Regions from separate parts of the Homo sapiens genome. Here region 2 is linked to region 1. The links come from fine-mapping of genetic effects on gene expression. Tissue or cell type: esophagus mucosa. Region 1 holds a variant in brackets; the other region holds the start of a gene. All regions are shown on one strand. Distances are between the middles of the regions.

Region 1 (5,000 bases):
GACTGCTCTGGGTACCTGTTGTAGGTGGAGTCATATGGCATCTGTCCTTTTGTGTCTGGCTTATTTCACTTAAGCATAATGTTAAGTAAAAAGTTCATCCTAGGCCGGGCGAGGTGGGTCACACCTGTAATCCCAGCACTTTGGGAGGCCAAGGCAGGTGGATCACCTGAGGTTAGGAGTTCAAGACCAGCCTGGCCAACATAGAGTGAAAACCCGTCTCCACTAAAAAATACAAAAATCAGTTGGGTGTGGTGGTGCATTCCTGTAGTCCCAGCTATTTGGGAAGCTGAGGCAGGAGAATCGCCTGAAGCCGGGAGGGGGAGGTTGTAGTGAGCTGAGACTGCGCCACTGCACTCCAGCCTGGCATATGACATATGACAGGACTTCCTTCCCCTGTGGGGCCGAATAAGATTCCACCGTAGGTGTGAAACCATGTTTTGTTTATCCCTCCATCTGTTGGTGGACTTTTGGATTGCTTGCTTCTTCTGTTGTTGACAACACTGCTAGGAACATGACTGTGCAAATCTCTCTTTGCGATCCCGCTTCAGTTCTTTTGGATATATGCACAGCAGTGGGGTTCCTGGATCATATGGTGGCTCTATTTTTAACTTTTTGAGTTACCACCATACGTTTTCCACAGCAGCTGTGCCGTTTCCACATTCCCATCATCAGTGCACAAGGTTCCAATTTCTTCAGTCTTTTTTAAAAATAAATACATGCTCCTTTTGAGTACATTTCAAAGATAGAAACATTAAAAAAAATTAAAATCACCCATACCCTGTCCTACCGTGAGAATTGTTAACATTTCCTTTTCTCTAATTTTAAGTAAAAATTTAACTTTACTGGTTAGGAGCCAGTATTTTGAGTCCTAGTGTTAGGCTGACCTCTAGAGGTAGAACTGGCACATTGCAGCCTTCTACTAGTGCCTCTAACCTGACGTTAACTGTTAAGTGTGGCAATGCCACAGCCTGGTATGTGTGTGGCATTTGAAAATCCCGGTTGATTGGCACATCTTTTCTAGGTGTTTATGTACGTCTTCTACAAAGCTTGATGCAGAAGTTCTTCCAAAAGAATAAAAAAAATTGGAATTAATCTAACTGGGACAAAATGTTGCCAAAAGGCTGGGTTTGATTTGTGGCATGTGGATTTGTTGGCCCTAAAGAGAACACAGGGGTCTGTCTGCAGATGTCGGAAGCTCCTCCGCAGCTTTCACTGGACGTCCCTCGGGACCACACAGCAGGGTCCTGGAGTTTGCAGTTGGCTGATGGGTTCATGTGTGACCGTGTCTCTCCCTCATGCCCAGGTTCTCTGTCCTACCTGTGTGTGCTGCCCAGGGAGGAAGGGCCTGAGGCAGAACCACCACTGCACATTCCTCAGCCTGAGTCTGCTCTGAAAGAGGCGAGTGGTTGTGTCTTTTCTTGCCACTGCTTGCTGTCTCCATGGGACATTCTCATTCCGGGGTGGTCCCTGGAGGATCGAGGAACAAGAGACTCCTGTTCTCCCATTATCTGTCTAATCTCATGCAGTACTTTTGGGAAAAAAGGCTAAAAGTTTGCTTTGGATTAGTGGAAAGGTTTGAAGACGCACAGCTGGCCTACTAAGGCTTGGAGCAGGTGCTTTGAGCACATCAGGCGCTCAGACATAGTTTCCTAAAGGATGCAATGGTTACTCACTATGTTCCCAGACCTTGGCATCCAGAGACCCTGTGTGTGTTCAGTGGAAAGATGGTTGGGTGAGGCTGGGATGATGGCGCTAAGAGATTCATTTAGGTTTTGTTTACTTAAAAAGTGACAAAGAGGATTGGCGGTGGTTAGTTCTGGAGGGTGGAGAGATGAGGATGTTTATTATTCTTTCTACATTTAAAATTTCTTAAATAAATTATGAAAAGGAAATAGTCTTAGAAAAGCAATGGGCGCAGTATTAAACATCTCACTTATTCCTCCGTAACACAAAAAACTTTCAATTAAGCTGAAGTGAGTTTTTGCTTGGTAGCTACAAATAGCTCTTCTGCCATATGAATGTTTTTCTTCTGGTTGTGTTTATGGGCAGTGTGGTTGTCTTTTACCAATGTTGACTCCAAGGCTTAGCCACTGCTGCAGGTCAAACTTATATAAATCGTATAGTTAAAAACTGAAAAATTCAAATGTGTTGTAATCTCCAAACAAAGTCTGCGCTAGGCCCTTTCAGGCTATAAAGGACAGGGTACTCTGATTTCTGCTCTTGATGAGGGTTGATTGTGATACCAGGCGAGGGAGTAAGAGATACAGGACACCATCTCTGCGGCTGCATCTTTGTCGCAGAAACAGACATTGTTCAGGGGACACCTGAGCCTCTGATAGTCAGCCAGTGGCTCTGGCAGCTCACAGCAGTTATAGGGTGGCTGTGTCCTTTTCTAAAGTCCTGACTTTTTATGGCCTGTGGTCATGGTGACTCCACTACGGGCTGTGTTTCTGTTGCTCCTTCCTGCCCTCAACCAGTCTGCCCACTGTGGAAGTCTGCATTTCTTCTCCTTCTCCTTCTCCTTCTTTCTTCTTCTTCTTCTTCTGATGGAGTTTAGCTCTGTCGCCCAGGCTGGAGTGCAGTGGCGTGATCTCGGCTCACTGAAATATCCACCTCCCAGGTTCAAGTGATTGTCCTGCCTTAGCCTCCTAAGTAGCTGGGATTACAGGGATGTGCAGCCTCACCTGGCTAATTTTTGTATTTTTAGTAGAATCGGGGTTTCACCATGTTTGCCAGGCTGGTCTCAAACTCCTGAGCTCAGGTAATCTGCCCACCTCGGCCTCCCAAAGTGCTGGGATTACAGGTGTGAGCCACCGCGCCTGGCCTGGGTCTGCATTTCTGACCGCCCTGTCGCTATAGGGCTCAGGCTTCCCTTGGGCTGGTTACTGCAGCCACCACCGGCTGCCTATGGGCCTCTGCCATTGGCCCAGATTCACATGTGGGGTCCAGTCCGTGGAAGTCATGGTAGTAAGCTCACATGGCAAGAAGGTAATGGAGAATTTCAGAGGCCTGCCTCGGAG[C/G]ACCAGTTCCAAGGGGTGCTTGACAGCCACAGCTGGCGGCTGCTCAGTCTTGCTAATCTAGAGCTTCGATTGTAACAGCCAACCCGAGTCTGTGCAAGATGGGAATCTAATTGGAGATCTCTGACAGAAGCTAGAGTTCTCTAACAGCTACATCATTGGCGAAAAAGAGAACTTGGATCCCCTAAATGGAGGGTCACCGGTGGGGGCATTGACTCTGAGTGGAGGGGAGGAAGAGTTTCTCTGAGAATTTATAACCATAGAGCAATCCTCAAATTCATACTACCTGTGTCATCTGGAAAACCCCCAAGCCAAGAATTCAGATTGGTTCCTTGGTTGGTAGCACCCCCAAGTGCCTGGCAGGAGCAAATTGCATATCATCCTCAGAACAATATACCTGCAACCACAGTTAGATGTCCAGATTTTTGGCATAGCTTTGGATGAGCCAGAACTTTACATGGCAAATGGGACGTTGCAGATGTAATTGAATTAAGAATGGCAAGATGGGGAGATTATCCTGGAATAGCTGGCTTGGCCTGGTGTAATCACATGGGTCCTTAGAGGGATAAAGGAGGAAGGAGACATGATGGCAGAAACAGGTGGGGCAGGGTTGGCTGGCTATGGAGGGGGAAGGGGTCATGAGCCACGGATGCAGGCAGCCTCTAGAAGCTGAGACAGGCCAGGAATGCATTCTCCCTGAAACCTCCAGAAAGAGTGCGTTCCCTGCTGACGCTTTGATGTTAGTCTACTTGGGGTTTCTGACCTCTAGAACTGTAAGATAATACATTTGTATTGTTTAAGCCACTGTTTGTGATAATTTGTTACAGTAGCAATAAGATATTAATGCTACTGCTTTATTGAGATAAATTTACATGTCATACAATTGACTCATTTGACACGTCCAATTCAGTGGTTTTATAGTATGTTTACAGAGTTGTGTAACAACATTTTCAAAGATGGATCAAAACATACTACACAGTGAATGATAAATGAGCTTTGGATCACATGGTGCTCTCTTTTCCTGAATAAAGCCACTTAAGAGGCACAGTCTGTGTTCAGGGAAGTGTGCTGAGTGCTGTTGATGCTGAATCGCAGGACCCTGTAGGACCCGTGAATGTCTGCGTTTCCTTTTTACCTTAATAGAGGAACCTTTTCTCATGACCCTTTTTGTTATATTTCCCTCCATGATGTTTCAAATATCTATTTACTGGCACTTACCTTGGACCAGTTCTTTTTTGATTTAGCTATTAGAAATCTTAAATTTCTAATCTGTTGCTAAGACACCTCATAGTACCCTATGCAACTAGTAAACTTCCAGATGAACTGGCCAAGACACATATTTGGTTTTGTATATTTTTCACTAACTTACTTTTGTTTTTTGCTTGCTTGTTTTTTGAGACAGGGTCTCGCTCTGTCATCCAGGTTGGAGTACAGTGGCACAATCATGGCTTACTGCAGCCTCCACCTCCTGGGCTCAAGTGATTCTCCCACCTCAGCCTCCCAAGTAGCTGGGACTACAGGTGTGCACCATCACGCCCAGCTAGTTTTTGTATTTTTTGTAGAGACGAGGTTTCACCATGTTGCCCAGGCTGGTCTCAAACTCCCGTCCTCAAGTGACCCGCCTGCCTTGGCCTCGCAAAGTGCTGGAATTACAGGCGTGAGACACTGTGGCTGGCCTCACTAACTTTATAAGCCTCTAATTCAAGGAATTTGTTCTATATGAAAATTTGAAAATGCCTGCTCACTGGGGATGGTGGTCCAGGATATTTAGTACTTAACACTGAGTTGTTTTGTGGGTGATGAGATCTGAGCAGGGATCAGTATGTTTGTCCTTATAATTGTCCAAAATAAGATAGCTGTTTTATGGCCCTATTTTAAGATAAGTAGATTTTTTTAAGCTGATATATTACGAATCTTCCAAATTACTTATATGAGAAAAACATCTCAAAGATTCTTTCCTTCCTTTTAAAAAAATTTAGGGCC
Region 2 (5,008 bases), 32 kb before region 1:
CCATGCTGAAATAAAGAAATTTGTCTAACTTCTTGTCCACTTGAATTTCTGTACAACAGATCTCTAGAATTGGAACTGCTAAGCCAAAGGGTACATACATTCTAAATTTTGTGTATGTCAGAAACTGCAAGGGTCTGAGATTTTCACTAAATTGCAACAGAGGTTCTGCACTTGGATGCTGACAGAAGTCACGAGACTCCTGGATTAAAAATAAATTATCTTATTACAGTAAAAGCAATAGCCAGAGTGACACCATATTTATATGGGTTCTTGGATCCTTAATTCCCACAGGGTTACATAGAGGGCCAGATGACTCCTGTGTTTGCAACGAGCAAGGGCCCAGCACTTTTTGCTTTCTTTTTTTTTTTGAGATGATGTCTCGCTCTGTCGCCCAGGCTGGAGTGCAGTGGCGTGATCTTGGTTCACTGCAAGCTCTGCCTCCTGGGTTCACACCATTCTCCTGCCTCAGCCTCCCGAGTAGCTGGGACTACAGGCGCCTGCCACCACGCCTGGCTAATTTTTAGTAGAGACGGAGTTTCACCGTGTTAGCCAGGATGGTCTCGATCTCCTGACCTTGTGATCCGTCCGCCTCGGCCTTCCAAAGTGCTGGGATTACAGGCGTGAGCCACCGCGTCCAGCCACTTTTGCTTTCTTTTGAGACAAAGTCTTGTTCTGTTAGCCAGGCTGGAGTAGAGTGGCAAAATCATAGCTCACTGCAGCCTTGAACTCCAGGGCTCAAGAGATCCTCCTGAGTAGCTGGGACTACAGGAATGCACCACCACACCTGGCTAATTTAAATAAATCTGTATTTTTTTTGTTTGGTACCAGAAGGATTAAAGTTATAAATATATGTACACATAAATAAATAAATATATAAACACACACACACACACACACACACACACATATATATACACACACACTAGAGATGCGGGGGGGGGGGTTCTCACTATCTCGCACAGGCTGGTCTCAAACTCCTGGCTTCAAGCAATCCTCCTGCCTCAGCCTACTGAGTAGCTGAGACTACAGGCGGCACCAGCCTGGATAAGTTTTTTAATTTTTTGGTAGAGACAGGGGTCTCGCTTTGTTGCCCAGGCTGGTCTTGAACTCCTGGCCTCAAGCTATTATTTACTACTCAGCTTCCCAAAGCGCTGGGATTTCAGGCATGACTTTGCAGGGAGCAGCAAACAAGCCAGTCTGCTGCCCCCATAGCCTCCGGTAGTGAGCAGTCACAGGATGCTCACTCCCTGGGTGCCTTGATTATTATATTGGCTGCCTGTGTAACTGACTACAGAAACTGCTCCATCAGAAGATGGAAGCTTTGGAGCCTTGTATTCTCAGCCAGAGCAGGCGCGGTTGCTCAGGCTAGCGGCTGTCTCAACAATGTACTGTAACATTCCCTCCAAAAAGTCCTCAACATTTAAGCTTGCCTTCTACTGTGTGTAAGTTGCATGTCCGAAACACTCCATTACGGATATGGGAATATAATCAATCCATGTGACTTAGCCAATCTGATGAGTGAGAGATGACTTATCTTCCTTGTGTTACTTTTCATTTCTCTTGAGGTTGAATACTTTACAAATATTTATCGATAATTTGTGAAACTGTTCTTTAAAAAACAAAACAAAACAAAAAAACCTAACCCCTCCCCTGAGATTTCTCTTTCCACGTTCCTGACTCAGGGGAAACAAAGGAAGACTTCCTTTTATCATCTCAGTGTTGGCTGCGGTTCCAGCTTGAGTACTGTCTCCTCTGTCTAATGACTGTGTCATTTCCCGTTCAGCTTGTGCTGTGTGGACGCACACCACTGTCAGGCAATGTGTGATGCCCCTTCCTCTTGGTCTGTTCCGGGCTCCAAGAAGGCCAGGAGTCAGGGCACGAGGGCATTTCCTTTTTCTGATACATAAACCGAGTGCAGAGTGTGCTCCGTGGAGGAATTCAGACGTGTCCTTCCGTAGCGCAGATGAACGCATCAGGTGTTCTCTTTCACTGCTGTCGCAGTCCCTGCGCCCAGTTCGCAGTTGGCGGCAGCGGCAGGCGTCTTTCAGAGACGAATTAGCAAAGGGGACATTCTCTGACAGTTTCTCTAGGGTGCTTTAGCGCTAGAGCCCGTGCCAGCCTGCCCGTGTCCCCTCCTATAGACACGGACTTCACGGTGAATGCTGACAGTCACAAGCGCGTGGTCTTCCCGCTTTCCACCCCCCGACGTGCCCCCGCGCTGGTCCTGCCCCTGCCCACGAGGGTCGGCGCGCCGTGTGTCTCCCGGTGTCTCGGGCCCGCGGCGCGCACCCCACTCAGGGACCAAGCGGCCCTCCCCGCCCTCCCGGTCCGCGCGCGCAGCCAATGGGCGCGGGACCCGCCCTCCCCGGAGCCCAGAGCTCGCAGCTCCGCCGGCGCCTGGTCCCAGCGCCCGCGGCGCCGCGTCCCCGGCCCAACCATGGCGTCCTCCGCGGCCGGCTGCGTGGTGATCGTTGGCAGGTAAAGGGCTCCGAGCCGCGCTGCTGCCCCTGGAGCCCGGGGAGACGCCGGGGACGTGGTGCCCTCGCGTGGGGCCCTCGGGGTGGGCGCCGGGTCGCTGTCCCCGCCCCGGCCTCCGGTCCTCCGAAGCCCTGCGCCCTGCGGCCCCTACGGCGCTGGCGGGCTCGGGGAGAGGCGCGGCTGGAGGGGCTTGGCAGGTGGAGGCGCCCCGCGGAGTTGGGTCTGCTTCCCGGGAGCCAGCGTTGCAGGAGGTTCCGAGGTTGACCGCCCAGGCCGCGGGGCCTGCGGTTCCTGGACTCTGTTGAATGTCGCCGCGTCTGCCCGCAGGTCCACATAGAAGTGCCAGGCACCGTGTTGAATGAAACGAATTCTGGCTGCGATCCTGCGACGACTGTGTTCTCATCCCCATTTTACGAATGAGAATACTGAGACTAAGCAGTTTACCTAAGGTCACAGGCGTTTAGTGACGGAGACAGGACTAGCCCAGCAGGGAGGGTGCCAGCGCAGTCCTGTCGGCGACGATGTCGCTGGAGGCCGCAGCAGGTGTTAGGCGAACATACACGCAGTCCTAATTCCTGGGCGAGGCGATGTTTCCAGAGGGGAGGTGGGGGCCGATGGAGCCCAGAGAGTTTGCTAAGTGTGTCCATTTAACAGCTTAAATTCTGCCCAAACTGATTTTTAGTGTGTGCTTCCCCCACCCCGCCCCCCACCCCTACGGTTACAATCCTTGCTATTTTTGTTTTTTAAAAAGGGGCATTTGTATGTACCTTTCTTTGGCCAGCTGTTAGCAGCAATCTATAAACATGTTAATACTTGCTATTGATAGTTAAAAGCACCTTTTTGGTGACTGCTGTTGAGGTGTTGGCCTGCCCCCGACTCCGCCCCCCATCAGTGTACAACCCGGTGTGGAGACCACTTCCAATGTCAGGGTGTTTCCTTCCCACTGAAGGAAGGCATCAGATTCCTTGTTGTCAGCTTTCTTTTCTCCAGAGCAGTGGAGTTAACTGTGCCTTTGTTCTTTCTGGCCCATGAGTGCCCGTGGTTGAATAGTGAAGGCATATTAAAAAGTGCACTTTGGGCCGCGCGCGGTGGCTCACCCCTGTAATCCCAGCACGTTGGGAGGCCGAGGCAGGCGGATCATCTGAGGTCGGGAGTTCGAGACCAGCCTGACCAATATGGAGAAACTCCGTCTCTACTAAAAATACAAAATTAGCCGGGCGTAGTGGCACATGCCTGTAGTCCCAGCTACTCGGGAGGCTGAGGCAGGAGAATCCTTTGAACCCGGGAGGCGGAGGTTGCGGTGAGCCGAGATGGTGCCATTGCACTCCAGTCTGGGCAATAAGAGCGAAACTCCGTCTGAAAAAAAAAAAGTGCACTTTGTACCAGTGGTGGTAGTTACCTCTGTCTTGCATTTTATTAATAGTTACCAGAGTTTATGTGTGTGTGTATATATATACACTCACACATATATATACACACACAGTTTTTACACGCATGCGTGCGCGCACGCGCACACACACACAATTTTAATAGGATAGGGTCTCGCTCTGTCGCCCAGGCTGGAGTGCAGTGGCACTATCATGGTGGATCTCCACCTTCCGGGCTCAAGCCATCCTCCCACAGCAGGCATGTGTCACCATACCCGGCTGATTTTTAAAATTTTTAGGTAGAGATGGGGTCTCACCATCTTGCCCTGGTTGGTCTTGAACTCCTGGGTGCAAGCGCTTTGGCCTCCCAAAGTGTTGGGGTTACAGTTGTGAGCCACCTTGCTTGGCCTTGTATAGGTCCATCATGCCTTGGAGTAGTGTTATGCATGCACCTAATACATGTGAAGTAAAGTTTTAGTTGATTGTGCAGTTATCTGGCTGTGGGTGGCTCAGTCTACTGAGGAGGAGCTTCAGTTAACAGTTTACTTCTGATTCCTTGAGGGATGTTGATAAGGAATTAGAGAAAGGCTTCCAAACTTTAAGGACCACATAATTCTCTGGGGCCTCTGCTTGTTTCTTTGTTTTCTGGTGTGAAAATCTTGTCTTTCCCCCACCCTCAGCACTTCAGCACACACCCAGCTCTGCCTCTGGGACAGTGCTGGTTTCTTCCCTTCCTCTTTACCACCCTTCTTTCTCGTCCCTCTATTTCTTTCCTGGCCCCACAGGTGATTCCAAGGAACACCCACTTAACAAATAGGGCTTGGGGAATGTCAATTAATTTGCCAAAACCTGGTTCAGTTTCATTCTTAGGTTTCAACAGACCAAAATATACATATTTCAATTTCAGGAGCATATTGTGTTTTCAGCTTTCCTTATCAGTTTATAGATTTCATCTTGAAAGTACCTGCTAGGAATACAGTCCCACTTAATTCTTTTCCGCTGATCTTTTTCCAAAGTTCACTCTTCCTTAGGGCCACTTAGCTGTCCTATAAACATCCAGGGCAAGTCCCTTCAGAATGGGGAGGGCTTGAAAGAGGATGAGAGAAACTCTTTTGGGCCTAGGGCTGCAGGAAAATCTGGTAGTGATAACTTTTAAAAATGGG

Evidence for each region. PIP is the estimated chance that this variant, and not a neighbour inherited with it, causes the effect.
Region 2: CRYL1 starts here. The variant in region 1 is fine-mapped to the expression of CRYL1 in esophagus mucosa (GTEx, PIP 0.98).

What each region holds. Positions count from the first base shown.
Region 1 is chr13:20,491,203-20,496,202 of GRCh38, reverse strand. The region is part of intron 2 of CRYL1 (crystallin lambda 1); the gene reads left to right. Among named protein-coding and RNA genes, the nearest start is that of CRYL1, 32 kb to the left of the region's middle. RefSeq lists an enhancer at 2,362-2,861. The variant C/G (reference allele first, on the strand shown) is at 3,021.
Region 2 is chr13:20,523,224-20,528,231 of GRCh38, reverse strand. It overlaps CRYL1 (crystallin lambda 1), which reads left to right and starts at 2,375. Exons shown (of 8, transcript NM_015974.3): 1 at 2,375-2,478. The coding sequence starts at 2,438. RefSeq lists an enhancer at 1,860-1,969 and a silencer at 2,150-2,699.